Homo sapiens: one gene and its partners. The protein of the gene in region 5 interacts with the protein of the main gene of each other region in a biochemical or structural test. Each region holds a gene or a part of one and is shown on either strand. Other genes may lie near its edges.

What was found.
Region 1: of the proteins of ARRB1 (region 5) and MAPK1, one has a biochemical effect on the other in vitro, tested with the Homo sapiens proteins (one study listed by BioGRID).
Region 2: the proteins of ARRB1 (region 5) and NEDD4L form a complex in vitro, tested with the Homo sapiens proteins (one study listed by BioGRID).
Region 3: of the proteins of ARRB1 (region 5) and GSK3B, one has a biochemical effect on the other in vitro, tested with the Homo sapiens proteins (one study listed by BioGRID).
Region 4: the proteins of ARRB1 (region 5) and CYTH1 form a complex in vitro, tested with the Homo sapiens proteins (one study listed by BioGRID).
Region 6: the proteins of ARRB1 (region 5) and MAPK10 interact in a test that uses a peptide from one of them, tested with the Homo sapiens proteins (one study listed by BioGRID and IntAct).
Region 7: the proteins of ARRB1 (region 5) and EIF2AK4 form a complex in vitro, tested with the Homo sapiens proteins (one study listed by BioGRID).

What each region holds. Positions count from the first base shown.
Region 1 is NC_000022.11:21,860,666-21,864,847, forward strand, and holds part of MAPK1 (mitogen-activated protein kinase 1), read right to left. Parts: intron 1-4,182. UniProt on the Homo sapiens protein: Serine/threonine kinase which acts as an essential component of the MAP kinase signal transduction pathway. MAPK1/ERK2 and MAPK3/ERK1 are the 2 MAPKs which play an important role in the MAPK/ERK cascade.
Region 2 is NC_000018.10:58,330,726-58,334,907, reverse strand, and holds part of NEDD4L (E3 ubiquitin-protein ligase NEDD4-like), read right to left. Parts: intron 4,171-4,182; coding exon 3,994-4,170; intron 1,091-3,993; coding exon 1,016-1,090; intron 1-1,015. UniProt on the Homo sapiens protein: E3 ubiquitin-protein ligase that mediates the polyubiquitination of lysine and cysteine residues on target proteins and is thereby implicated in the regulation of various signaling pathways including autophagy, innate immunity or DNA repair.
Region 3 is NC_000003.12:119,909,118-119,913,299, forward strand, and holds part of GSK3B (glycogen synthase kinase-3 beta), read right to left. Parts: intron 3,694-4,182; coding exon 3,587-3,693; intron 1-3,586. UniProt on the Homo sapiens protein: Constitutively active protein kinase that acts as a negative regulator in the hormonal control of glucose homeostasis, Wnt signaling and regulation of transcription factors and microtubules, by phosphorylating and inactivating glycogen synthase (GYS1 or GYS2), EIF2B, CTNNB1/beta-catenin, APC, AXIN1, DPYSL2/CRMP2, JUN, NFATC1/NFATC, MAPT/TAU and MACF1.
Region 4 is NC_000017.11:78,775,506-78,779,687, forward strand, and holds part of CYTH1 (cytohesin-1), read right to left. Parts: intron 1-4,182. UniProt on the Homo sapiens protein: Promotes guanine-nucleotide exchange on ARF1, ARF5 and ARF6. Promotes the activation of ARF factors through replacement of GDP with GTP.
Region 5 is NC_000011.10:75,281,608-75,285,789, forward strand, and holds part of ARRB1 (beta-arrestin-1), read right to left. Parts: intron 2,673-4,182; coding exon 2,628-2,672; intron 1,877-2,627; coding exon 1,680-1,876; intron 415-1,679; coding exon 355-414; intron 1-354. UniProt on the Homo sapiens protein: Functions in regulating agonist-mediated G-protein coupled receptor (GPCR) signaling by mediating both receptor desensitization and resensitization processes.
Region 6 is NC_000004.12:86,009,668-86,014,498, reverse strand, and holds the end of MAPK10 (mitogen-activated protein kinase 10), read left to right. Parts: 3' UTR 1-4,094; downstream 4,095-4,831. UniProt on the Homo sapiens protein: Serine/threonine-protein kinase involved in various processes such as neuronal proliferation, differentiation, migration and programmed cell death.
Region 7 is NC_000015.10:39,940,288-39,944,469, reverse strand, and holds part of EIF2AK4 (eIF-2-alpha kinase GCN2), read right to left. Parts: intron 1,088-4,182; coding exon 985-1,087; intron 1-984. UniProt on the Homo sapiens protein: Metabolic-stress sensing protein kinase that phosphorylates the alpha subunit of eukaryotic translation initiation factor 2 (EIF2S1/eIF-2-alpha) in response to low amino acid availability.

The DNA of each region.
Region 1 (4,182 bases), on a different chromosome or scaffold from region 5:
AAGTAAACAATGAGCAAGCAAAATTAAGAATCTCAATATCTCTGTCTCCAGGTCTAGAGTTTTTATATATGATATATGTTATTGCTGTTCCTGCCTTTCAAACAGGTGGTACAAACACCCAGCAGAGATCCATGAAGAGAGTGCATTAACAGGAAGCAATAGGGCAAAGTTCATAGAGATGAGCTTTAGAGAAAAGCGGGACTTAAATAGAGCCTGATGTTTCTTGGGGCAGGCTGGGGTGCTGTACTATGGGCATCTTGGCAGGATGATTCTCCAGTGGAGGGAGTGTACCGTGCAATCCAGACCATTTAGCATGTCTGCCCTTGACATGCCTACTGACGGCCAATAACACCCCCTAATCAACGTGACAACACAACAAAAAGCCGCCCCCCTATACATTTCCAAATGCCTCTGTAGCAGGGAGGTAAAATCACCCCCACTGAGTACCACGAGATAAAGTAGGCACAATGCGGCCAGGTGCAATGGCTCACGCCTGTAATCCCAGCACTTTGGGAGGCCGAGGCAGGTGGATCACCTGAGGTCAGGAGTTTGAGACCAGCCTGGACAACATGGCGAAATCCTGTCTCTACTAAAAATACAAAAATTAGCCAGGCATGGTAGCACACACCTGTAATCCCAGCCACTCAGGAGGCTGAGGCAGAATTGCTTGAACCCAGGAGGCAAGGTTGCAGTGAGCCTCCAAGCAAAACTCTGTCTCAAAAAAAAAGTAAGTAAGTAGGCAAAATGGGCAGAAAGCATAAGAGATAAAGTGGGAGTGGAACTGGCAGACAGAAACAGGGCCATCCTTTAATGACTCCGTCACCCACAAGATCAAGTCCAAAGTCCTTACCAAATAATGCCCTTCAGGATTTGGCCCTGCCTACCCCCAGCTGTCTCAACTCCCACCTTCTTACTAAGGCACCCTACACTCCAGCCTTCCCAAGTAATTTGTGGTTTTCCTGACCTGATGCACTGTGTTCACGGTCTGTGCCTTTACATGCACACTTCGCTTTGCCTAGAAGGCATTTCTCAAGGCAAACTCCTACTCACACATCAACACCTAGCTCAGAAGTCTGGGAAGCCAAAGAAAGACAGCCCCAAGTCACTCAGCTCTTCTCTTCCTCTCAGCACTTCACAAACTCCTGGGTAACACTGGTATCTTCTCTGTATTATTCCCCAATTCCATCCCATTATTTGGATGAAGAGTTCAATAAACATTTTCTGAGTAAATAACTCTACATGAAAGGTTTTAAAGGCTAAAAAGTGATACAAGCAAAAGCAGACAACAGATATTTCTTGTTACTGAAATAATCTATTTTCTCAACTCTGATCTTTGGTGGAGCACTACTTAGGAACCAGAAAAACTGGGGTTGCTTCATCACTTCCTAGCTGTGTGTCATTGGGCAAGTTAACTAACCTCTGTGTGCCTCAAGTTTCTTCACTTGTGGGGTAAAAAACAAACAGAAGTTACCACTTTTGCTGTACAGTTATATGGCTTAGCATTAATGTATGTAAAATACAAAACAAGAGTGCTGAAAAAGTGGTAGTTCTACTAGTCTGCTATAATCACAATAACCTTAACAAGACAGGAGGACATTGTACCATCAGGAATGTGATCACAATGAAATTTTAGTTGAAACCATCCCCCTCTTTTTTCTTTTATTCATTCAGCTTTCCCAAGTTGAACATCCCCGCTTTAAAAAAAAAAAAAAAGAGGCCAGGCACAGTGGTTCACACTGTAATCCTAGCACTTTGGGAGGCTGAAGCAGGGGGATCACCTGAGGTCAGGAGTTTGAGACCAGCCTGGCCAACATGGCAATACCCCGTCTCTACTAAAAATAAAAAAATTAGCCGGGTGTGGTGGCACACACCTGTAATCCTAGCTACTCGGGAGGCTGAGGCAAGAGAATCACTTGAACCCAGGAGGCGGAGGTTGCAGTGAGCCGAGATTGTGCAACTGCACTCCAGCCTGGGCGACAGAACAAGACTCTGTCTCAAAAAAAAAAAGAGCTGAAAGTCAACAAATATAATGGCTTGTCAGCTGCATTCTGTTTCCCTCCTATAGTACTCAATACCAATCCCTTAATGAGTACCATCTCCCTTGGCTCCTTTGATAACGTGCACTCCCAGTTCTTTGGTCTCTCTGGCCACATTTCCTCTGTCCTCTTCCATAACTTGACCTTTATTGACACAGTAAAGGCAGGCACTCCTTTGGCTTAGTTCTCAGATGTCTTATCCACTCTTAAGGCTTCAATTAATATCTCTATGAAGATGACCCCATGAGCTCTCTTGTCGCATTCAGAAACAGCATTTCAAACTCAATTAAACCAAAATAGACACTTGCTATCTTAGTCTAAGATGACCAAGCATACTAAGAGTGTTTCAATCTCTCCTCCTCTCCCTCCTCCCCGTCTACACTGTTCCCTTATACATCTGACCAGTCATCAGTTTCCTCTTCTTTGCCAGAGTTACCTGGTTGGTCCTCTGTTCTACTTCAGTGGTTCTTAATGTTTCCAGGATAATGGACTCATTTGAAAATCTATCAAATGCTATGTATTTTTTAACCAAAAAGATAAATATAGAAAACATATAATTACAATTTCTTTTTTTTTTTTTTTTGAGACCCAGTCTTGCTCTGTCACCCAGGCTGGAGTACAGTGGCGCGATCTTGGCTCACTGCAAGCTCTGCCTCCCGGGTTCACACCATTCTCCTGCCTCAGCCTCCCCAGCAGCTGAGACTACAGGCGCACACCGCCACGGCCGGCTACTTTTTTTTTTTGTATTTTTAGTAGAGATAGGGTTTCACCATGTTAGCCAGGATGGTCTCGATCTCCTAACCTCGTGATCCGCCCACCTGGGCCTCCCAAAGTGCTGGGATTATAGGCGTGAGCCACCGCGCCTGGCCATGATTGCAATTTCACCTAACCAATGACCCAGATAAGAATCTGTGCTCATCCACTCAAGATTTTAACTACCATTTACACAAATTTTCATCTCCAGCTCCTGCTCCCCTCTTACAAATTTTAAGATGGTTTCTGGATATAGCCTGAATGGCCTACAGGCATTACAAACTTAAGTTCAAACCAGAACTATTTCCCCCTGACAAATCTGCTCTAACAGTATTCCTTTACTTGGATAATGGCACCACCATCTCCCAGGCTCCCAACCTAGAGGCCTCAGAATGAACAACCGCCCATAGCCAATCAACCAGCAAGCCTTGTTCTATCTCAGAAATCCCTCCAAATCCAAATCCCACCTCTCTTGGTCTCTTACCCTTTAAGGTCTCATAATCCTTTGATTCCACTCAGACTTGCCATGATTAAAAGTCTTTTTACCACTCTTCCCACAAGGGTCCCTGTTACTATTTCTGTCAATACAAAACTCCTCACCTCCATCTGCTACCTTCCGCTGCCACTTTATTACTGCACCTCTAGGTGGTTAGGCTTTCCTAATTTATTCCTCCACTCCGGTTCTTCTTCCTTCATTCCCACTAGTGTTGATTTGTCTTCCCAAAAAATTTCAAAATTGACCATGTATGACTGCCTCTTTCAAAAAAAGGCCGGGCACGGTGACTAAAGCCTGTAATCACAGCACTTTGGGAGGCTGAAGTCAGGGGGACCACCTGAGGTCAGGAGTTTGAGACCATCTTGGCCAACATGGCAAAACGCTGTCTCTACAAAAATACAAAAAAAAAATTAGCTGAGCATGGTGGCACGCGCCTGTAGTCCCAGCTACTCAGGAGGCTGAGGCAGGAGAATCGCTTGAACCTAGGAGGCAGAGGTTGCAGTGAGCCGAGGTCATGCCACTGCACTACAGCCTAGGCAACAAGAGTGAGACTCCACCTCAAAAAAAAAAATAAACAAATAAATAAATAAATAAGATGCTTCCTCCACTGAACAAATATACAGTCAAACTTAGTTTTGCCTTTGGAGTCCTCTACAGTTTGCCACCTAAGTACATTTCCAAGATTAGATTCCACAGCTCAAGCTGTCACTTGTTCCTATTATCTGCATATCAAAATCACACCCACTCTTAAAGGCCCAACTCAAATCCCACTCTTCATCTTTACATCCTCTACATAATCATTAGGAAAGGACTCTAAACAAAATAGTCACAATTCCTAATGAACTGATAAGGAAACAGAAGGGGGTAAATCTAAAAAATGGCTAGAAATCCATAAAT
Region 2 (4,182 bases), on a different chromosome or scaffold from region 5:
TCCCAGAAAAGACGCTCTTATCAAGCTTATTATTAAGTCTCTCCAGTGTAAGTCACAAATGACTCTATTATTTTGACTGCTTCCTTGACTAGTATACTCATTAATTTTTTCTCAAACATAAAAAATTAAAACCTAGGCCAAAATATCCTTTGAAGTCAAGAAAAAACATACATGAGAGGGAAGACACTGTGATTTCAAAAACCTTAAATGCACTTTTCCCCCTTCAAATTCATACGTAATACATTATTAGTCTTAAAAATGATCAAGGTTTTGTAGCAACAGACAAAAACTGTCAAGGTAAAATATCAAATTGAACACATTAAAACCACATATTTTCACCTCCAAAAGAAGAAACAAATTTATGTAAAATTTCTTATTTTTAATGTGTACATCAAACATCTCTCAGGGCAGTTCTAGTCTGCCTTCCAACTTGAATATTTCTTTTTACATACATCAGATGTTACAAAATCCCCTACACCTCTACATTTGCTGATAGCTATTAAAATGATGAGAGAGTTGGAAAGAATTATAGCCAATTCCTGGTGAGCAGAGCTGCCTTTAAAGAGAAGGTACAGAGGCTCTGTAGAGTTCAGACTTCAGGTCATTAGGAAGGGAAAGGAACATGTGGACGGTCGCCCAGAAGAGTTCTTCCTGGTTAAAGGGACTCAATGTGTTTTCAAAGTACAGATCACTGGAGCATAACTATAGTAACTCAATAAGGTAAAAGGAATTACTAACTAATGTACCAAGAGGTTTAAGTGAGCAAATCAAAATTGGTATAAATTTGGGTGAAAAACTAAAGCAATGGAGGTTCCAGCATTTTAGAGATGGGTGGCAGTAACAATTCTCTGTATTGGAAATCCACTTTCCTAGGGCAATTGGCCAGGAAATTTAAAAACATCTCATTTATATTGTAAATAAATTTACACAGGAAAAACTCTTTTTGCAGCAGCCCAGATGATTGTAAATGAAAGCCCAAAAAGTCAACTGATGACTGGAAATTAGCATGGGTTACCGGTGGTAGATGGCCCTGTTCTGCAACTGCGTCGGTGACACTGCATGACCTCAACCTTGAGGAGGGTTCTCTTTGCTGGAAGGAGAGGAAAAGACAGGAAGCATCAAGAAATATATTCTTAAAAGCAACTTTCATTGGTTTAACAAACATATCACTCAACCATATTCACCGCTCTTCGATATTAGAAGGTAATTAAATGAAACATCTTTTCAGAGCAAGGACAGTCATCCTTGAAAAAGTTATCTTTCACTTTAATTTTCAGTTAAGCAGACTGGAATTTTGATTGGTCCTTAGAATTAGTGGCAAAAGTAAGAGGAGACCAAAACTTTCAGAAAGGAGACTCAACAGGACTCTGCAACACTCTAATGCTGCTTTACAAACAGAAAGAAGCTAGCAGTCTTGTAGTTTGCTCTAAGATGCACCCTCAGGGTAAATTTTAATGTGATGTGAATAGACGGAAGAAATAGTGATATGTGGCTACCCAACATTTATTGATTACTACAATTGAAAAAGAGTCAGTTGCATCCTATATTCAGAGGAGCTCAGACATCATCTTGGCCTACTTCTGAAAGATCTGGTATTTATAATTTTAGCTGCTTTTTTTTTTTTTTTTTAAATATAGAGTCTTGTTCTATTGCTCAGGCTGGAGTGCAGTGGCATGATCTCAGTTCACTGCAACCTCTGCCTCCCAGGTTCCAGTGATTCTCCTGTCTCAGCCTCCTGAGTAGCTGGGACTACAAGCCCCCCCCACCACACTTGGCTAATTTTTTGTATTTTTAGTAGAGATGGGGTTTCACCATATTGGTCAGGCTGGTCTCGACCTCCTGACCTCAGATGATTCACCCACCTCGGCCTCCCAAAGTACTGGGATTACAGGTGTGAGCCTCCATGCTCAGCCAATTTTAGCTTCTAAGTGGACTTCAAGTAGTAAAGACAGGAATGATTAAAAATAGTGAGATCAAGCTAAAAAAAAAGATCTACTGTGTAGTGTCTTAATATTCCTCTAACTTGTTTGTATTAGTCTATGTGGTTAAATGAAGCCTAATTGATATGAATGAAGATTAGCAGCAGGTCACACACAGAAGCCAGAGTCTCCTTATCGGCAAGTTCATCCATAGTATCAGTTTCTAGTATTTACTCATTTTTAATATTTTGTGATAAGTAAATGGTACAAGAAGACTCTGTGGTAGGGATGGGGGACAATTCACATCTTCCCACATTGGTTACTGTGAAAGAATCAGTCTTTAATAAAAGTGTCACTCTGTTGCTCAGGCTGGAGTGCAGTGGCGCAATCGTGGCTCACTGCAACCTCTGCCTCCTGGGTTCAAGAAATTTTTGGGCCTTGGCCTCCTGAGTAACTGGAACTACAGGTGCACCCCACCACACCCGGCTAAGTTTTGCATTTTTAGTAGAGACGGGGTTTCACCATGTTGGCCAGGCTGGTCTTGAACTCCTGACCTCAGGTGATCCGCCTGCTTCAGCCTCTCAAAGTGCTGGGATTATAAGCATTAGCCACCGTGCCCAGCCAAAGCTCATGTTCTTCCCCTTGAATACAGGGTAATCCCAATGAGCAAATATCCGATTTGACTCTCATTTAACAGTGAACACGATGTGAAATAATACAACATTGTATTTGGGTCTTAATGATATTTCACAGATCTAGAATAATTAAATTCAGGAGCTCCTCATTTAAATAATTAGAATTGCTAACTTATGATTATTGCTGAAAAAAATTACAGTGTTTACTTGGTTTACTAAAGGTGTGTTACTGCCATGGATTCTGTGGTACCTCCTTGCTTTTATAGGTTTTAAATACAAGGCTTCATTGTTTATGTTGTTTCTATAACAACAGTTTTATCAGTTCAAATATCCCATATATATGCAATTTCTTTTATCCTGTCCATTTAGTACTACATTTTCATCTTGGCGACACATCTCTTTTTGAAAAAGTCACAGAATTTCAAAGTGAAATCACATTAACTGAATGATAAATGCAACTCATGTAATAGAGGCGTATACTGTCTTTTAAAATAAAAACACCATAACCAAAAAGTAACAATTTTGTGAGTACTTACTTGCTTTTACATTGTATGCAGTGCTATCATTTATGTTTGTTATGGTCATAGTAATGACTATTTTTTTTTAGGATGCCATTTTCAGTGGAGTGACTATCATCATTTACTATTGTACATTTTTAAGTTCAGTTTCTTGAGAAACACTGAGACTTCATTTGCTCTTAATTCTATGCACAAGCAGGGATTTTCTATGGGTTATTTCTGCACAGTTTTGTATTGTCAAACATGGAAGTCTTTGTGACTGATTCCATTGGGCTCAGGCATTGGGCCCATCTGAAGCTTCTAGAAAGTATGTTTCTGATGGTTGAGAGCCCAAGTTAAAATGCTACCTTGATGACAGTGTCACAATTTCACAACATTTCTCAAGGGTTCATACTCTGGGACTTAGGAGACGTCTTCTATCTCCCACTCAAACCTTGTCTTGGATGAGCCACTTAAGCATTGTGCCCTTATCAGCGAAATGAGAATGATAAATCCTGCAGAATATGACTTAAGAGGACTGATTAGGCCTGATGGCTTTTAATTGTTACTGTGAAATACTACCTTTGTGATAAAGGTACTATTTTCATGAGCCTTTTGGCTGGGAAAGGAATTCTACAAGGTTAAAGCTAATAATTACAGACATCATGGAGTTTTACTTCTTTGAGTTCTTTATAAACCAAGAAAGTGTTAGTGGTATAAGGGTGAGCAAAGCTGCCTTCCAAATCAAGAAAGATTCTCACCTGCTTGGGCTAATTTTAGTACAGTCCTGCTTCTCCTAGGGAAGGAGGAACTTTGGAAAATGTCAGAGTTAGCTGGGAGCTGGAAGACCCTTGGTCACTATTTACGTAAGAGATTCTCCTTAAGCAACAAAAAACAATAAAACATTGCTCAGCTTTTCTTTCAAACAAGGCCACTACTTACAATCAAAGAGCTGAACTGTTCCCCATTGGAGTCTGGAGTGATCTGAAGCCTTCTGCTTAGTTCCTCTGACAGCTCCTGAGGGCTGGTCCGAGATCCTGGGGAGGCCGGTGGTGGGGGCAGAGCCAGACCGAGAGAGTCTCCAGCGATATTCACTTCCTCTGAAATGGTCTCCCAAGGCTTTCAGAGAAG
Region 3 (4,182 bases), on a different chromosome or scaffold from region 5:
AAGCCATCCTCCCACCTCATCCTCCCAAGTAGCGGGGACTACAGGGGCATGTCACCACGCCCGGCTAATTTTTGGTAGTGACAGGTTTTCACCATGTTGCCCAGGCTGGTCTCGAACTCCTGAGTTCAAGTGATCTGCCCACCTCAGCCTCCCAAAGTGCTGGGATTACAGGTGTGAGCCACTGCACCAGGCCAGGTCTGTTTTTTGTTTGTTTTGGTTTTCTGTTACTGTGGGGATGTTTTTGGTTTATTATTTGCATGCTTTTGTTTGTTTCTGGACTAAAGGAATTCTCTTCAGAAACAATATGTAAGAGTAAAATAATTTTGGTTTCCACTTGCACATCCAGCTTAAAGTTGCTCCTTGTTTGTTAGCTTCCTATTCATGTCCAGCTGATCATGCTCTCTCTGTTCACTCCTGGCTAGTGGGCTAAGATGTAGTAAAAGAGAAGGTCAATAATGATTAAAGCTAATGGTCTCTATTCAGTTCCTTCTATCACTAAACATCTTGGGTGACGACTTGAGAAGGTCAATGATGATTAAAGCTAATGGTCTCTATTCAGTTCCTTCTATCACTAAACATCTTGGGTGAAGACTTGAGAAGGTCAATGATGATTAAAGCTAATGGTCTCTATTCAGTTCCTCCTATCACTAAACATCTGGGGTGAAGACTTGAGAAGGTCAATGATGATTAAAGCTAATGGTCTCTATTCAGTTCCTCCTATCACTAAACATCTGGGGTGAAGACTTGAGAAGGTCAATGATGATTAAAGCTAATGGTCTCTATTCAGTTCCTTCTATGACTAAACATCTTGGGTGCATACTTCTGCAGAATCAGTGCATCTAGCAAAACTACTAGTGATTTAAGCTGATTTTATATTAAATAATGGAGATGGCATGAAGGAAATGTTAGCAATATGGCCATACTATCACTTTCATTATTAACTTAATGAAATAACATTAATTAATAAATTATCCAACTAGTATAATCATGCTCAGAAGTATTTCAGGAGGATTTTAAATAAGAAAGTAAAAAAAAGTTACTTAGAATTAATTTAAATTCTTAAGGTAAAAGCTATTAGCTTTATGATTCTAACAGTCCAAGGAAGAAAAATAGAATAGTAGGTATACCTTAAATTCTAAAAAGTAGAATTTGAAAAATTCTATACAGGCATACGTCAGAGATGTTGCAGAACTGGTTCCAGACCATAACAATAAGACACAATAAAGCAAGTCTCACCAATTTTCTGGTATCCCAGTGCATATAAAAGGTATGTTCACTCTATACTGTAGTCTATTACTTGTATAATAGAATTGTATAAAAACATAAATGTAATACATTAACTTAAACACACTTTATTACTAAAAAAAAATGCTAATGATCATCTAAGCCTTCAGTGAGTTGTAATCTTTTTGCTGGCAGAGGGTCTTGCCTTGATGTCGATGGCTGCTGACTGATCAGGGTGGCAGTTGCTGAAGGCTATACGATGTGGCTGGAGTAATTTCTTAAAGTGACAATGAAGTTTGCCACATCAACTGACTCTTCCCTTCATGAAAGATTTTTCTCTAGTAGGAGATGCTCTTTGATAGCATTTTACCCACATTAGAACCACTTTCAAAATGGGAGTCAGTCCTCTCAACCCCTGCTGCTGCTTTATCAACTACAATTATGTAATATTCTAAATCCTTTGTTGTCATTTCAACAATATTCACAGCGTCTTAACCACTAGTAGATTCCACCTCAAGAAACCACTTTCTTTGCTCATCCATAAAAGAAGCAACTTGTTTATGTTTCATCATGAGATTGCAGCAGTTCAGTCACATCTTCAGGCTCCACTTCTAATTCTAGTTCTCTTGCTAGTTCCACAACATCTGCAGAGACTTCCTTCACTGAAGTCTAGAATGCCTCAAGGTCACCCATGAGGCTTGGAATCAACTTCTTCCAAAATGTTGTTCATGTGATTGAGTCACAAATGTTCTTAGTGACACCTAGAATGGTGAATCCTTTCCAGAAGATTTAAAATTGACTTTGCCCAGATCCATCAGACTAATCACTATCTAGGGCAGCTATAGCCTTACAAATGTATTTCTCAACCTTTGGGTGACCAGTTGCACTGTCCATAAGCAGTAATATTTTGAAAGAAATACTCTTCTCTGGAGTAGTAGGTCTCAGCAGTGGGCTTCAAATATTCAGTGAACCATGCTATAAACAGATGTGCTATCATCCACTCATTGTTGCTCCATTTATGCAGCACAGGCAGAATACATTCAGCATCATTCTTAAGGGCCCTAGGATTTCTGGAATGGTAAATGAGCAGTGGCTTGCACTTAAAAGTCACCAGCTACATTAGGCCCTCACAAGAGAGTCAACCTGTCCTTAGAAGCTTTGAAGCCAGGCAATGACACTTCTCCTCTCTAGAAGAAGTCTTCCATCTCTAGAAAATCTAGAGATGAAAGTCCTAAACGGTATCTTCTTCCAATTCAGTAGAAGGCTATTTGGTCTCCATTAAAACTCTGATGTTTAATGTAGCCACCTTCATCGATGATCTTAGTTAGATCTTCTGGATAACTTGCTGCAGCTTCTACATCAGCACTTGCTGCTTGCCTTGCACTTTTATGGCATGGTGCAGCTTTTTACCCTTAATCCTCATGAAATAACCTCTGCTACCTTCAGATTTTTCTTGTGTAGCTTCCTCACCTCTCTGTCTTCACAGAATTGAAGGGAGTTCAGGCCTTGCTGGGTTAGGCTTTGGCTCAAGTGAATGTTGTGGTTGGTTTGATCTATCCAAACCACTAAAACTTTCCCTGTAACAGCAATAAGGCTGTTTCACTTTCTTATCATTCATCTGTTCATTGGAGTAGCACTTTAATTTCCTTTAAGAACTTTTCCTTTCTGGTCACAACTTGGCTAACTGTGTGGCACAATTTCGATATGCCTTCCTTGCTCAGCTTAATCATTTCTAGCTTTTGATTAAAAGTGAAAAATGTACCTTTCACTTGAACACTTAGAGGCAACTGCAGAGTTATTAATTGGCCTAATTTCAATATTGTTGTCTCTCAGGGAATAGGGAGGCCTGAGGATAGGAAGAGAGATGGGGAATGGCCAGCTGGTGGAATATTCATAACATACACAACACCGATCGATTAAGTTTGCTGTCTTATATTGTTGTGGTTTGTGGCAAACCAAAACAATTACAATAGTAACATCAAAGACCACTGATCATAGATCACCATAGCAGATACAATGAGAATGTTTGAAATGTTGCAATAATTACCAAAATGTGACACAAAGACATGATGACACAAAGACATGAAGTGAGCACATGCTCTTATAAAACTAGTGTGGGCAGACTTGCTTGACTCAGGGTTGACACAAACCTTTGAGAGGTTAAAAAAAAAAAAGCAGTGCCTGGAAAGTATAATAAAATGAGGTATGCCTATACATGTTTGCATCTCAAGCTTTAAGAAAAAAAACATTATGGGATATATCCATCTTTCCATGGAAATAAAAGTACAGATTAGTAGTACTAAATTACCAAAATCAAGAAGCAATTAATAATTATGAGCATTATATTCAGATTTGTACTTACCTATACTAGAGGTATAATCAGTGGCTCCAAAGATCAACTCTGGTGCCCTATAGTACCGAGAACAGATATACGAAACATTGGGTTCTCCTCGGACCAGCTGCTTTGCACTAACAGAAAAAAAATAAAAATAAAAAGCAGAAATTCTTTAAATCTAAACCTTAAAGAACTTAGACTGCTATCCTTTCACAGTATCAAATGATTTTATAAGATTCACATCATTTGAATCATATATGAAAAAGAAAATGTAAACTGTAACTATCTCTAATAAAAGAAATTTACAATTTTATCACCTTGCTCTGCAAAAAAGAATAGCAATTTTTAAAGAAAGCGTTTGTCACCTAAGAAGGCACCAAAAGCAAAAAAGGATAAGTGTTGAATTTCTTCTGATCCTCTGTTCCCCAAATTCCACCTCTAAAATACAAAGAAGCAAGGGCAGAAAAGAGGTACCTCCCCCACCAAAAAGCATGACAATGGATTCTAAGAATGAATACTCCTCACCCAATGTATTTCTTTAAAAAGGGTGAGAAACTGGCCACTGTCTTGCATTTTGACTTCTGACTCACGGCGAATATTTCAAGGCTTATAGACTCAATCTA
Region 4 (4,182 bases), on a different chromosome or scaffold from region 5:
TTTTAATTCTTGCTGAAAACACTGCTATTTTAACTTGAAATTTGTTCTTTCTTGTTTTAGATAATGAATTAGTTCTACCTTTCCTGCTTTAGATAATCAATCTGGGAACTCAATGTAAAAATTACATCAAAGGCAAATAAAAAGTAAGGTATTTCAGAAGCTGAATAAGTAAAGGACATTTGCAGACGTCTCTTCCTTTTCATTTGAAAACTCACCTAAAAATTATTTTAAAATTCTCTGTTGACAACTTCCCTAATTGAAGCTAACTTCTTGAAAGGAACAAAAATAAGACATGCATTTGCTATAATGAACATGATAGACTCCAGCAACTTTCATTTTAAATGTTTATATAGAAATTATGCTTAAAGGCCAGGCACGGTGGCTCATACCTGTAATCCCAGCACTTTGGGAGGCTGAAGTGGGCAAATCACCTGAGGTCAGGAGTTTGAGATCAGCCTGGCCAACATGGTGAAACCTCGTCTCTACTAAAAATACAAAAATCAGCCGGGTGTGGTGGCACATGCCTGTAATCCCAGCTACTTGGGAAGCTGAGACAGGAGAATCACTTGAACCCAGGAGGCAGAAGTTGCAGTGAGCTAAGATCACGCCACTGCACTTCAGCCTGGGAAACAGAGTAAAACTCTGTCTCAACAACAAAAAAAAGAAATTATGCTTAAAAAGGAAGTTCATAATTGAATCACGGCAACTGCAGTCATTAGCCCCAAAATGATGACCATTACAGAGCAACAGGATGAACATACTCTCTGGAAAATCCCGCAAATACTCCCTTAAAGTGCATTATATGTGGTTTTCTGTTTACAACCCTGAACATTATTACACAGAAATATATACTGGCAACAGTACACACAAGCCAGGCGCAATGGCTCACACCTGTAATCCCGGCACTTTGGGAGGCTGAGGCGGGCAGATCATTTGAGGTCAGGAGTTCGAGACCAGCCTGGCCAACATGATGAAACCCCATCTCTACTAAAAATACAAAACAATTAGCTGAGCGTGGTAGCACACGCCTGTTGTCCCAGCTACTCAGGAGGCTGAGGCACGAGAATCGCTTGAACCCGGGAGGCAGAGGGTGCAGTAAGCCAAGATCGTGCCACTGGACTCCAGGCTGGACAACAGAGCGAGACTCTGTCTCAAAAAAAAAAAAAAAAAAAAGTACACACAGTATGCATGTTATAAAGAAAATGTATGCAAAATTTAATTTTTACGATTTTTTTCTTTTTCCTGAGCAGAATAGTATTTTCTTAAGTTAATGGTTTGTCTGGTGGGACTCCACAGTGCCATAAACAGTTTTTTTTTTTTTAAAAAAAGAAACCAATAGGCCAGGTGCAGTGGCTCACACCTGTAATCCCAGCACTTTGGGAGGCCTAGGCAGGGGGATCACCTGAGGTCGGGAGTTCGAGACCAGCCTGACCAACATGGAGAAACCCTGTCTCCAGTAAAAATACAAAATTAGCCAGGCGTGGTGACGCATGCCTGTAATCCCAGCTACTTGGGAGGCTGAGGCAGGAGAATTGCTTGAATCTGGGAGGCGGAGGTTGCGGTGAGCCGAGATCGCCCCATTGCACTCTAGCCTGGGCAACAAGAGTGAAACTCTGTCTCACAAAAAAAAAAAAATAAGGCCGGGCGCGGTGGCTCACGCCTGTAATCCCAGCACTTTGGGAGGCGGATGGATCACGAGGTCAGGAGATCGAGACCATCCTGGCTAACATGGTGAAACGCCGTCTCTACTAAAAATACAAAAATTTAGCCGGGTGTGGTGGCGGGTGCCTGTAGTCCCAGCTACTCAGGAGGCTGAGGCAGGAGATGGTGTGAACCCAGGAGGCAGAGCTGGCAGTGAGCCGAGATTGCGCCACTGCACTCTAGCCTGGGCAACAGAGCAAGACTCCGTCTCAAAAATAAATAAATAAAAATAAATAAATTAAATAAATAAACAAACCAGTAAAGATATATCCCACACAGGTGTAGTCTGAACCAAACTGTCCCTATCTAATGAATACAAAAGAGTACTGGAACTGAGAAAGCCTTTTTGTTGGTTTTTGAAATTGTCTTTAATTGGACAGAGAAACTCTAAGACTCTCTTTCTATAGCATATTATCAATGAGCTATGTTCCAAAAGTTTTTTAATACTAAAAGGTAGCCAGGAAATTACAATGCATTTCCCTCCAGAAAGAATTCTAAAGCCGGGCGCGGTGGCTCACACCTGTAATCCCAGCACTTTGGGAGGCTGAGGCGGGCAGATCACGAGGTCAGGAGATCGAGACCATCCTAGCTAACATGGTGAAACCCCATCTCTATTAAAAATACAAAAAAAAAAAAAAAGAAAGAATTCTAAAAACAGTGGTACCTGTCCTAGGCTGATTCACAAAACGTTACCAACTTACGCAGCAGGGACAGGGACAGGGACAGAGGAAGCACTGTTGAAAACAGCGCACACACAAAGTTAACACCACAAGAAATGTTTCTCATTATTCTGAAAATCAAATATTAAGGTTTAGGCTGGGCTTGGTGGCTCAGGCCTGTAATCCTAGCACTTTGAGAGGCTGAAGCAGGCAGATCAATTGAGGTCAGGAGTTCAAGACCAGCCTGGCCAACATGGGGAAACCCCATCTTTACTAAAAATACAAAAATTAGCCAGACATGATAGCATGTGCCTGTAGTAACCCCTACTCAGAAAGCTGAGGGAGAATCGCATGAACCCAGGAGGTGGAAGCTGCAGGGAGCTAAGACTGTGCCACCACACTCCAGCCTGGGTGACAGAACAAGACTGTCTCAAAAAAAAAAAAAAAAAAAAAAAGGGAAAAAAAATTAAGGTTTAAAAAGTTTATTTAGGGCCGGGCGTGGTGGCTCACGCCTGTAATCCCAGCACTTTGGGAGGCCAAGGCAGGTGGATCACTTGAGGTCAGGAGTTTAAGACCAGCCTGGCCAATATGGTGAAACCCCATTTCTACTAAAAACACAAAAATCAGCCGGGTGTGGTGGCAGGTGCCTGTAATCCCAGCTACTTGGGAGGCTGAGGCAGAAGAATCACTTGAACCCAGCAGGCAGAGGTTGCAGTGAACCAAGATTGCGTCACTGCATTCCAGCCTGGGCAACACAGTGAGACTCCATCTCAAAAAAAAAAAAAAAAAAAAAAAAGAAAGAAAAAGTTTAATTAGGCCTGGCACAGTGACTCAACCCAACACTTTCAGAGGCCAAGGCGGGAGGATGGTTTTAGACCAGCCTGCGCAACATAGTGAGACTCTGCAACTATTTAAAAAATAATAATAATAAAAAGTTTGTTTAAAAGAAAACAATGGAAGTTCTGAGGTGACGTCTGAACACGTCATGTTATATGCTTTATGAATCCATCACACACATTTCCTTTTACAATGTGGGATCTGGTCAAGGTAAATTCTCTGTGAAACCTATGAGGGAAATGGACAGTTCTGGAGACTAACACAAACCTTAAAGAACTTGGGAGTCTTATTCTTCATATGATCATCTTACACCATCAGGTACTTTTTGTGTGGTGACCCTCTGGGTGGGGAATCTTCAATCTTTTTAGTTCCTCCAAAATAAAAGGATGATATTTAAAACTGTAGAAAGGGGAACAGGCCAGGCGGGGTGGTTCATGCCTGTAATCCCAGCACTTTGGGAGGCTTAGGCAGGCAGATCACCTGAGGTCAAGAGTTTGAGACCAGCCTGGACAACACAGAGAAACCCTGTCTCTACTAAAAATACAAAATTAGCCAGGCGTGGTGGCGCATGCCTGTAATCCCAGCTACTCAGGAGGCTGAGGCAGGAGAATCGCTTGAAGCTGGGAGGCAGAGGTTGCAGTGAGCCGAGATTGCGCCATTGCACTCCAGCCTGGGCAACAAGAGTGAAACTCCATCTCAAAAAAAAAAAAAAAAAAAAAAAGAAAGGGGAAGAATAAACTTACAAACTTTCTCATCTTCGTGTGTGGCAGACAGAATAACAGCCCCTAAAGAAGTCCGGGTACTAATCCCCAGAACTTGTGAATAGGTTACCTTACATGGCAGAAGGGGAATTAAGGTAACAGATGGAATTAAGGTTGCTAATCCTTAGCCTTGATTATCCAGGTGGGTCCCACTATAATCACAAGGATCTTAATAAGAGGGAGGTAGGAGGTCGAGAGAAATGAGAAGATGCTACCTGCTGGCT
Region 5 (4,182 bases):
ACCCTCAGTTTCCCCATCTGTGAAATGGGGATGATCGCACTTTGATTCCAGGTTGCCAGGGGTTACATGAGGCCAGGTGTAGGTCCTCAGAACACTTTGGTCCTGTTGCAGCCAACGCCACCCAGGAGAGCCTCCAGACCCATCACTGAATGGGAGAGTGAGGCTGACCCCGTACCTGCTGCCCTGTCTGAAGAGAGACTGGTTGTCCAAGGTGGGACCAGCTTAGCCTAGACACAAAGACTGTTCAACAGGGAGAGTGGTCCTGTGTGTCCAGCACCTCCCAGGGAGAAAGCCAGGGACCTGGGGACATGAGACTCCTGGAGCCAGAGAGATGGTCCCCTTGGGGTGACCTACCTTCCCCGTGTCTTCGGGCCCCGGCTGCAGTGTCACAGAACATGGAAGGTTTGGAGGGATCTGTCAAGAAGAGGACAGAACGAGCCACCTGTCACATCCACCACTGTCCTGTCTCATGTATTGCAGCCCAGACACTCCCATACACCCATCAGACCAAGGGCCCCAGGGGACAGGCCATGTCTATCCCATCAGACCATGCCAAGCCATGCCCCATCTAAAACTCTTTAGATAAAGAGCTTTCTTTATCTAAAGGGTTTGGCCCAGCCCAGTCCTCGCAGCAATGGTTTAAATAGATCTTTCTATGATGTCTACTGTGGTTGGCAGAATAATGTTCCCCAAAGATGTCCACACCCTAATCGCCCAAACCTGGGACCTTAATGACAAAAGTGACTTTGCAGATCCAATTAAGGCCTTGAGATGGGGACCGTATCCTGGATGATTTTGGTGGGCCTAGTATAATCACAAGAGTCCTTAGAAGTGGAAGCAGGGGGCAGAAATGTCTGAGCCACAGTGATGGGATGTACAAAAGACTCAACGGCCACTGCTGGCTTTGACAATGGAGGAAGGCACTGTGAGCCAAGGAAAGCAATGCTGGAAAAGGTGGACGCTCCCCGAGGGCCTCCAGAGGAGCCAGCCCTGCCACGCCTCCATGGTAGCCCACTGAGACCTGTTTTGGGACTTCTGACCTCCAGAGCTGTAAGCTCATACATCTGTGTTGTTTTAATTGCTGCCGAGTTTGTGGCAATCTGTTTCAGCAGCCATAGGGAGCTAACATGTCTACGTAGAAAAGGTGACTCCATGACCCTCTCCACTCTCTCAGCCTCCAAGAAAGGGAGAGACCACACTGAATCTCAGAATCAGAGAGCCTAAGAAACTTGAGATTTTGAAATCCAGCATCTTAAAGTCTCTGATTTGAAAGGTGGTGGGGCAGACAGATCACCTACTTGCCATCCCTCTCTTGCGAGCTGGGTTGCTGCCGGGCAAGTGGGGAGCTGATCTGAGCGGGAAACCCCTTGCAGTGATGCAGGGTCCAGAAAGGGCTCTTTCTTTCTCTGAAGCCCCTTAGCACCCCCTTTCTCCCACCAATGACCTGGCCTCAGAAGGGTCTGAGGAGTAGCCCAAAGGTACAGGTGACAAACCCCAGCAGGGGCTGGAGAAGAGACACTTACCAGGTAACACAGGTGACAGTGCCCCAGGTCCCAGCATACACTGGGAAACTGGGTGGCAGGGAGCAGCTGACCCTCACCGCCCTCTTATGCCCACCCCAGAGGGCTTCCTAGAGGTGGCATTTCTGGAATGGGGCCCCAGGGATGGCAGTTCCTGACCTCAAAGGTGAAAGGGTAAGCGTGCTCGCCCAGCTTCTTGATGAGGCGTTCCTGCAGCCGCGTCAGGGGCTTCTTGTCCTCGGGGGCCGGTGGGAACGACTGTACGTTGGCCACAAACAGGTCCTTGCGAAAGGTCAGGCCCAGGACATCCAGGTCCTCCCGGCCATAGCGGAAGGCGCAGGTCAGCGTCACATAGACTGTGGGGAGCGAGGAGCACTGAGGAGGGGCCTGGGAGAGCAGCAAGCGAGCCCCCCAGAGTGCCGGCAGCAGCCCTGGGACGGGCCCCACTGGAGGCCCCAAGCCTGTCCCAAGCTCTGTGGGGATGGCTGCACTGTCTCCACCAGGAGGGCTGGTAGTGAGTACCGGAAGGATGCCATGGCCTGGCCCCTGGGAGGAGGAGGGGGCTGCCTGCTGAGCCAGCTCTGTCCTTCCCCCTCCCACCTCTCCCCAGGGCATATGTGGAGGGGTATGGAAACGGTCTGACAGGCTTGGCGGGGGCTGGAGTAGTCTGGCAGGCCTGGGGTGGGGGTAGGGGACCTGGGGAAGGAGCAGGGAGTTGTGGGGGCAGGGCAAGTGCTGGGTGGTATCTGGACGGCAAGCGTCTTGTCACAGCTCAGTCTGCACTCTTGTCTTCCTGCGCATTGATACTGCCCCGGTATCAATGTTCTGTTCTGTTAAAGAAGAACCTACTCCTACCCTGCTGGCATCCCCAGCCTTGCCACAGTCATGACATATTGATGTGAAAGTGCTCAGGGCATGGGGAAACCTTCTCCCAAAGTAAGCTTGGGGCAGGGCCGTCCCAGGCTGGAGGAGGCAACGGCATCTGTAGAGGTATTTGTTGGGGCTTTCAGGGGAACCAGTGGGGATGGGCAGGGAGTTCCTATGCTAGAGGTCCGGGGGGAAGAGGAGGCGGCCCTTGACAGGCTGGGGATGGGGGCCACAGCCTACCTCTCCGCTCTTTGAGATACTCAGGATCCACCAGGACCACACCATCTGGGGAAAGGACAGAGAGTAAGCGGCCTCTCCCAACCTGGTCTCCCAAACCTCTGTGCCCCAAACACCAGCCCAAGCCCAGATCCAACCATCTGTTCATCTAAAATCATCCTGAGAAAAATGGAAAGGCGGGCACCTAGAGGGTGGCACTGCCCACCTCCACCACGCTCCACCCTTCCCCCATCCCAGGCCAGTATAACAGACCCAGCTGGTGACTTTAGGCAGGTTAGAGACCATTTCTGTTTCTTCATCTGCTAGTAAGAATAATAACCTAGGTCCGAAACTCCTAGAACCAGGTATTCTTTGGAATTTAGAAATTGCGAAGTATAGAGAGGCAAAATGGGCCGGGCGTGGTGGGTCATGCACATAATCCCAACACTTTGGGAGGCTGAGGTGGGCGGATCACTTGAGGCCAAGAGTTCAAGACCAGCCTGGCCAACATGGTGAAACATCAACTCTACTATAAATACAAAAATAGCTGGGCATGGTGGCGGGCCCCTGTAGTTCCAGCTACTCGGGAGACTGAAGCAAGAGAATCACCTGAACCTGGGAGGCAGAGGCTGCAGTGAGCTGAGATCATCCCACTGCACTCCAGCCTGGGCAACAGAGCGAGACTCTGTCTCAAAATAAAATAAAATAAAATAAAATAGGCAAAATGGTACATGTTCCATATATTCTGTAATGACCTCTGCAAGATCTGTACCTTATTATTAAAGCCATTAATACCTCTGTAGGAAAACACAAATATTCTCACCAAGAGGCTAAATAAGGCATAAATAGCCTCGCATCAGTTTGGGTCAGGTTTGCCAATAAATGAATTCTGCATTAAACTTGGAAGCAATGTTAGGTTTTCAGAGCTTGGGCTTGGCACATGTGGATTGGGGGTTGTGATCTGCAGTGCCTCCCTCATGGGGCTCCCGTGACGACTGAATGGGTACATGTGTGAATGTGCATATGTGTACAGCGCTTAGACAGTGCCAAGCACTCGAGAGCACTCTGCAGATTGTGGAAGGCGCCTCAGTGCCCTGAGGCCTGCCCTTGGGGGCAGAGTCCAGCTGGACACAAAGGACATCTCTGCTCAGCACCCCAGGAGGCCAGAAACACTGGCTCAGGGTCACCCCCTTGGCTGACATCCCCTGTCTATCTTTGGCCAAACCTTTCTTTCCTCTCTCTCTCCCCCTACCCTCTAACCCATTGTCACTTCACTGCTGGTGGAAGAGGAGGGCCAGGATGGATCATCAATGTCCTGTTGGGCAGGCCAGTGGGCTTGGACTTGTGTGCAGGTTTGGTGGGGAACCGGTAAGCATAGGGAGGGTGTGATCAGATCAAGCCAAATGGCAGCGTCACTATGGGAGAAGAATCTCTCACAGTGAGTCCCTGATCAGCTCTGCACAGTGCCCCAGAGTTCTCGGGGATACCAGGGCTCACAAGGGGCCTGGCACAAAGGGGGTGCTCTGTGAACACCTGCTGAACAGCTCTCAGGGTGCCTGCGTGTGTTGGGGGCTGGTTT
Region 6 (4,831 bases), on a different chromosome or scaffold from region 5:
AAGGCAGATGATGGAACAACAAAGAGAATCACCACTGTAAAAGCCCCCCAGTCCTTTGCCCACTAGGTCTGCTTTCCTATAATATGTCTAGGAGGTGATGATATTATCAAATTCACAGAATATAATATGTTCTGCATTCACTTGTCTGTCTTAACACACACACACACACACACACACACACACACACACACACACCCCAAATATTTCTTAAATAGTCACCTGTTATTTCCCAAGAACATCCCAACTTTTCCGGTAGGCAAGTGTCAAGTCACCTGGACAATATTCCTGAAAAAAAGTGAAGGTTCTACCTGGGGTTGGGGCTCATTTTGGAACATGAAGTTGGCACTCTGAGGAGCCTAACCTTCTGTTAGGCTTCCTTTGGGGCAGTTGGTTTGCAGTGATCCTTAATAAAATAGTTTGCAGTATTTTGTAGGAAGGATGGCTGTGTACTCATGTGCAGGGAAAATTAAACTGCTGCAAGAGTTTGGCAAAACCGCCACCACTTTACTATTAATATGTCTTTACTATTTTTATATGTGTTTTGTGGGTCAGCGTGTTCAATTTTAAATAGGAATACACTAGCCTTACAACGGAATTTCTTCTTGTGGAATAAAAACTGATAATAACCTTTCATCTTCAAGAATCTGATGACTGAGTTTTGTAGGAATGTACCCAACAGTTGGACCAGAGCCTGGCCAGTTCCCACCAATTGGAGTAAGCTATTTAATTGAGGGTTAAGAAGCTCGATAGTTTTTTCAATCTGTTATCAGAAAAATATTATCTAAAGACACTGATAGCAGCTGACTGGTAAAACTGAAAGTTGGCCTTAGTAAATGGAACTAGTAAAAAATAGATAAAAATATGTAAAACCTTTTATGTCCTGTCAAGGAAAAAAAAATAAGCAAACTTGATTTGTTTTAAAATTGTAAATATTCATTGCAAAACCTAAATTATACAAAATCTATTTCGATTTGAATCTCTTAACATATGAAAAGCCACATCTTAAGTGCATTATGCTCTGTAAGGCATGTTATTAGCCAGCTTTGCTGAAAAATGTATTCTTCTACAGCTCAGAAAGAGGAGTAAAATTGCTCTAGAAATTTTTGATCTCAGCCACTTTGCATCCAAAGAGGAACCCAACTCCCCACTCACAATCCCCCACACACATTTTAATTATAAGAGTTCAACATTTTCCACAGATATCATTAAGCCAAGCAAGGAAACTCCTCTCTGTAAAAACAACAAAAAAGTTGCAATGTAAATAGTTATTTTAGCTATTTTCTTTGTGATTAGAGGATAAGATTTTGTTATTTCTTTTGGTACTTAGTCCTTTAACTATCTGAAAATGGCTCACTTTGACCTGTTTCTTTGGTCAGCCAAACTGAAGTGAGGGGCCTCTGTTTATATATAGAATCTTGTATATGTAACTTTACTTATGTGGGACCAATGGCCAGTATATTCTAATGGACACAAATCTCCCAATCCTTATGTAGGATTATCTGTTCACCTTGCCATGTCCATCTTGCAATGAGACCTAACTTGCACCTGCCTGTTTTTCTGCATGATTGGACTCCAAAGACTATTACCAATGATGAGAATTGTCTTGTGTCAGTGTTTATAAAATGGACTTAAAGCACACACACATGCATACCCACATTCACATGCACCCTTACAGTTCTAGATCAACCCTGGAAGGCAAAACCATGTACGTCCAGTTTCTTTGCAAGGTCTGAGCAGTGAGAACTAAATTCAGTCAGTCTAATGGGTAAAATGCAACCTCAGTGATGCTTAATAAGGATTTGAAATCGTTCAAGTCATTTCTGTGTTCTTTCTCACACCCTTTCCTTTCTATTTTGTCTTCTTTTATTTTCAAAATGTCTGTGGAACAAGAGGATGAATCGGGGGAGAACTTCTGCTTCTTTTGACTCTTTTTAGGTAATATGGAGTCAATATATTATGATTTCTGTTTCTTATGGATTATTAAAATCAGAGGAAATCTGCTTCTCTCAACATAAAACCAAATCCAAACCCAGACATTGTTGGAGTTTGCCTGTTGACAATGGTTATGATGCTGCTCGTTGTCTTGAGTTGCATGTAACGACAGTAGCTCTGAAGGGTGTCATGATTTCATTTTGGCAACTGGTAAAAGAAACTTGTAGTGTGGTCTGATTGTGCCAGGGAATAAATAAGAAATAAGGAATGACCTACTTTCTCACCTTGGGTCAAGAGTGTGTGATATGAATGTGACCATGTAGAAATCTGTGTTTTCATTTGACACTGGTTTCTTCTAAAACTGACCTTCATTTCTGTCTGTAGATACTAGTTGTATATCTGCAATTCAGTAATTTCTTTTTAAGGTATAAAATCAATGAAGAAAAAAAAGATCATCTTTTGGGGGGGCATTAGGTAAGTAGAGCAGGGTTAAATTTCCCAGATTAATTATCAGATTTCTATTCATTTTAACTATTTTCCAAGAGAAAAGGTAAAAGCCTTTGTTTAGCTACATGATATCCAACTTTACTATCTCAAACTCCTTGGAGAATTAAAAATATATATGATTTTGTGGCTGGATGAAGAGGTCACTGCACTTGCATTAGTTTACTTTGCAGTGTTTGAACAGTTGAGGAGTGGCTCTTCTATTTCTGTAAATAATGTTTTATTTAACCAATTAACTATTAGAAAGCCTGGAAGATAAACATACACATTATTTTGAGTTATCACATTTATCGTTTTACCTAGTTCCTGTTGGAATATAGAAAGCAACAGCTTTTTGTTATCTCTGGAACAGCTTCTATCCTAGTTTAAATCACAGATCCTTACTCTCTTTAAAAAAGGTCAAGCATAGGTACCTAAAAATACCCACAATAATAAGAAGGGAAATTGCATTCCACAAGATGATTGCTCTTAAAGAGTCAGAAGGAGTTATTGGTGCATTCCTGATACCATAAATGGTTACCAAACATTTGGTAATTTTGACCAAGTTCACAGTAAGGAGAAAAAAGGGTGTTGGACTTGCTTTTCTTGAAGATTACTTATGGAGCAACCAACCTAGAAGGATGAATCTACTTGCCAATAACAACACTGGATCACAGCCAAGGCAGAGGTTTTTGACATTCCCAATTCATCATGGTGGTGTTTTGTATTTGTAACATGTCTTTTCTCCACAGATGTTGAAAGGCATGCTTGGATGACACATGCTAATAGTGAAACACGCTGAAAGTCCTGCCATCACAGATCACTTTATGTTGGGAGCCACTCTATGTGGCAAGTCATCTGTCCCAGTTCCAGACTAAATTTCAACTGTTCAACCATTTACATCATTGTAGTCTGTTTAAGGCACTAAAAATGTGCTGTAGAAATTTATATTTCTCAGACACATGAAATGTGGTGACACATCCAGCAACAAGTCAAACACTCCTTTGAAATTTTCTACCTTATGTCAAATATTTCTTACTTTTAAAGACATTCCTATCCTGGTGTAAAATCCAACATAAAATAATTTGAGGGAATTTAAGGAATTCAAATTTCACTCCGTGGGGTACGTGGCTTTATTTCTTAATCACTGAACTTCTAGTAATGTTCTTCACCTGATCTTGTCTGCGATGTTTAACCAACAGTCCAGATCATTTGCAACTCAAAAGCAGGTACAAAATGTTATCCATCTTAAAAACCCCTCACATATTCCCTAGAAGACTGTCCCACACATAATTCGCCTTCCATTAACACTTGTGAACCCATCCTGGTGAAAATATTGCCTATGAACAATTATACCAAAAAATCAATTTTTATAATGCAAATAATATTTTACACAGACCAAGAGAATTCATAATATTAAAGTATTTCTTTTATAAAAGGAAGGTTTTCAGAAAGCAATGGCCTATTCCTTCATGTTAATACATTGCGAACTTGGATTTGGTGTAAATCAAGCCCTGAGAATATTGCTCTGAATTTCTAGCTTAATTTCTGAGCAACATTCTAAAGCAGTTCATTAATTTACTCCAAAAACATTTCTTGGACACTTCGGTGTAGGAGATATATATTGCATGGTCCTTAACCTAAAAAATTCAGAGTTAATAAATCTTTGTTTAAAAAAACTAAAGCAAATATTTTTATTTCATTTATTTGCTATCTTTTTACAAAATGTATTTAAATTAGTGGTGTGACTTGCACGAGTCCATTTTTATTATTTGCTTAAAGCGATGAAACAAGGAGTCTGCTTCTTTCAATGTTCTTATTTTGTCTAATTATATAAGTATACTTCATGAATCAGCATGAGAATTTTGAATATTTTCCATTACAAGAGATGAAACCACTTTTAAAAATTATTTAAAATTTAAAATTCATTTTAAAAATGCATGGATGTTCTTTTCCGCATTGCAGAAAGTTTGCTTTGATGTATGGTTCCTCTGAGAGCTATTGGACCTAGATGCTGACTGAGCATGGGGCTTATACTTTTGGCATCACAATCTCCAAATTAGCAAATGATATCACAATGGGTACTGAAGCTTCTTTGCAGTGACATTCTTACATGAAGCCAAATCTTCGGAGTTTGTTCAGTCTATGGGTGACTGTTGGAACCCTAAAATAACTTAAAGTAGAATTTGGTCATTTATTGTTTTTTTTTATTAAAAGGTCCAACTGAGAACATCCCTGAACATCTGAACCAGAAATTTGACATAGAGCTCTAAATATTCACTCATTCATTCATGCAACAAATATTTATTTATCAAGCACGTCAACCATCCAAGGACTGTTCTAGGTACACATAGTTGATGTGATGAAGTCAGCAAATCTGCCTTCACATGGTCTGCATTCTAGTGGAGAAGTCAGA
Region 7 (4,182 bases), on a different chromosome or scaffold from region 5:
ACAGAGCAAGACTCCGCCTCAAAAAAAAAAAAAAAAAGAGATCGTTAAACATAAGCTGCCAGGCAAAAACACTGAGTGATTTTACACAAAAGTGGGGCAAAGAAGCGTTATACTTCGAGGGAATTGGTCTGGCCTAAGGAAAGCACAGTCATACTCTGCCTCCAGAAGACACTTAGTCTTGCCTTCCACAGAGAGTTGTGCCACCCAGGAGAGAACTCATATGTAGATCCTAATGTTCAGAAGATTAAAAAAGAATGAGTACTGCACTCAGTGTAAATGCTCAGGTATATGACAGACACTGAAGGAGTAGAGTGTGTCACTAATTATTGAGAAAGAAAACAACAAATTCCTCTGATATGCAAAGGGGAGAGGTGGTCCGAAATTGTTTGTCTGCCCACATTTTCCAACAAAAAGGTTCAAGTCATGATGCAAGATCCAAAGTATACAAAAAGTATGGCTGGGTTCACATCAACTGTTTTCAGAAAAATTCTTCTTCTTTTTTTCTTTTTTTTTAAGAGAGAGGGTCTTGCTCTATGGCCCAGGCTGGAGTGAAGGGGTGTGATCATAGCTCACTGTAACCTCAAACTCCTGGGCTCACGCAATTCTCCCACCTCAGCCTCCTGAGCAGCTTGCACTATAGGCATACACCACCACACCCAGTTAATTTTTTTAGAGATAGGTGCTCGCCATTTTGCTCAGGCTGGTCTCAAACTTCTGGGCTCAAGTGATCCTCCCACCTCAGCCTCCCCAAGTGCTGGAATTACAAGTGTGAGCCACCATGCCTAGCAATTTTCAGAAACATTCTTCAGCATCAATAGTACCATCTATAGACTACAAATTTCATTAATCCTATTAAATAAATAAAAATCACAATGTTCCCTTTTGTAGAACCAATAAAACACAAAACATGCTACTCAAAATTGGATTTGAGGTGTAATGGGGAAGTTTACTGTCTTCTTTTAATTCCAGTTTAACAAATCTTACCTCCCCACAGTGTTTCTTGGCCAGTTCTTCTAGGCGAGATTTTAACAAATTGACACTTTCATTTGATAGACCTTTGGCATTTTTTAACTCTATTTCAGGAACTCTGGAAAAGGCAAAAAAAAAAAAAAAAAAAAGAGTTACTCCAGAAAGTATAGCCTGTTTGCATTAATATTTGCTAAACTGAAAGCACTCTGGGCCCAAGGCCCTTAATCTCAAAGGGACTTCAACCATATCCCTGCAACTCCAGTTGACAGTGGAGTCACCTGCGTCCTACAGGGAAGAAGTGGGCTGGCCAAAGCCTTCTGTCTGGGCTGTTAGACTTACTGGGCTTGACCCCTGTATCTAATTTCAGCTTTACAATCTGATTAAAATTTCCCAACATCAATTACTATTTATTTCCTACGATTTGACCTGGATCCCTAACTCTGAGTTCTTCACCTTAAAAAAAAAAAAAAATCATTCCAGTTCTGCAGCTGACTCTAGCCCAGTAACTTAACCATGTGCTCCTTTGTATGGTAATTCTCTACCCTAGCTTGCAGCCAATGAGAATTAACCTAGCTCTGACAGCTCACTGGCAAGGCCAAGCGCTCTGCATTCAGGTGTGCTCTAGCATAAAGCAGAACAAGAATAAATAGATGAGTGGAGCCCTGGTGATCCCTCTAGTATTCCCACAACACACTGCTGCATCCCAATCACTCATTCTGATCGAAACCAGGTGGAAATGCTCACTTCTTGTGTATAAATACATCTAGTCATGCACACTCTCTGCACCTCTGCCTAGAGCTCATCTAAGTCAACACTTTCAACTCAAGGACATTACACAACCAGCCCTCGGGTTTCATTTTATTCCCAACCAATAAATATCCAATAACAACTCTCTCAGATTAAATAGGAGTTATTTAATTTTACTGAAGAGATGATGACTCATCACTTTTTACCAAGCATTTCTGAGTAATTCATGGCATTTAACCAGTGAAGTCTTGAGTATGCACTTATCTATGCGTTCTCTCAATGCTTCAGTATGAAAGGGTGCTATGATCATTATCTATTTCTATAGATAGAAATCTGAGAGAAAGTAGTCTATATGAGGGAAAGAACAGAAAAACAAACCATACAGTCCTGACTCTATGTATGGAATCCTGGGTTAGATTCCTCCCCAAAGAGCTGGGATGGGGCTGAAATTTCTAGAATTCCTCCCCAAAGGTCTGGGATGGGGCTGAAATTTCCAGAATTCCAGAATCTAACCCGGGAGTCTCTCTCTCACAGTGGCACCCAGGACTATTCTGCAGAAAAGCAATGTTTTCCTGTACCACATTCAAAAGGATAAGAATATTACCCCAAATTAAGATTTTTGTTATAATTTAAAAAATAAGTAATCATAATATAGCAATATTAACAGAATGGAGAAAAAATCATCAATGATGCTAATTAAACTTCAAAAAAAATTCTAATGTTCTCTTTATTTCCTTGCTATATAATTCATAGTTTATGTAGCTGATATTATAATGTTTGCTTTTTAACTTTTATAAGCATTTCCATGTTAAAAGCAATCATCCCATAATATTTTTATCAAGTGGACACATTAAGATTTACCTGAATAGTTATCTAGTGCCATGATTCTTAACCAGGGGTGATTTTGGCCCCAGGGGATATCTGCCAACATCTGGAGACTTTTTTTGGTTGCCACAACCTGGGGAGAAATGTACTCCCGACATCTAGCAGACAGAGGTCAGGGATGCTACTAAATATCCCACAATGCCCAGGAAGGACCCCACAACAAAGAGTTATCTGCCCACATGTCAGTAGTGCCAAGGTGGAGAAACCTCACTCTAGTATTTGACATTTAGATTGCTTCCAATATCTTTGCTTTCACAAATAATGCTATAATTAATATTTTAGCACTTATATAACATTATAGCACTTATACCTTTTTCTTTATTTTGATTTTTCAAGAATAAACACTTTGAATTCTTGAGGCTATGGTATAATAAAAAAATATATATTTGATATTTGACCCCTGTTCCTGGCACAGAGATCCTATCACCCTTGGAATTTCCTGAGCAACAGGGGTGAGAGGAGCATCTTATGTTTTTCATAACAAACCCCTTCCAACCATACCGGAGTTAGTACTCATGAGGGAACTCTGGTCAGTACCTGGATAGCTTCAGGATCAGGACTGGTCACCAGAAAAACCAAGCCTTGATTACAGGGTGAGAAATTTCAGCCCCATCCCAGATCTTTAGGGAGGAGTAGGGGGCTGAAGATCAAGTTCAATCACCAGTGGCCAAAGATTTAATTAATCAATCATCTCTACATAATGAAACCTCCATAAAAACCCCTAAACGACAGGGTTCAGGGAGATTCTTGGTTGAAGAACACAGGGAGGTGCTGGGAGGGTGCCAGGCCTGGAGAGGGTATGGGAGCTCTGTGCCTCTTCCCACACACCTTACCCTTCATAATACTTCCATGTGGCTATTCCAGAGCCATATCCTTTACAACAAACTGGTAAATGTAACTCACAGAAACTGAGTTCTGTGATGCATTCTAGCAATTATCGCAACTTAGGAGGGGGTGGTGGAAACCCCTAAATTTATAGCCAGTTATAAATACTGGCTATAAATGGTCAGAAGTACTGGGACTTGCCACTAGCATCAGAAATGGAGGCAATCTTGTGGAACTGGGTCCTTAATCTGTGGGGTCTTTGCTAACTACAGATAGTGTCAGAATTGAACTGAACTACTGGACACCCACATGGTATCAGAAAAGGCATCATGTATTTGGTGTCAGGAAAAAAAAACAACCTAGAGAGGCACTCTTTTAATTTCCTTTCATAAATTTTTAATTATCTTTTTCATTAATGTTTTATAATTAACGTTTCGTTAATTAATATTTTTATAGTATGTATAGTATACCTACTATAATACTCTCAGGACAGTTTTGGGGGCCAAGAATGGTTACTGACTTCAAGGAGCTCAATTTTGACTTATCTGTCTTTTCATATCCTCCCTATCACTTCTTAGGATAATAAATTCCATAAATTTACCACCCACTGTGTAAAGCAGAGTTTCCTTTTACTTGTCCCTTTCCATCTCAAAAACCTTCACTGGTTCCCCATACAATAATTTCAAACTACTTAACGCCATCCAGGCCAACCTGCCTTTCCATGTGGGATGGGTGGGGAAAGATTACACCAAATAG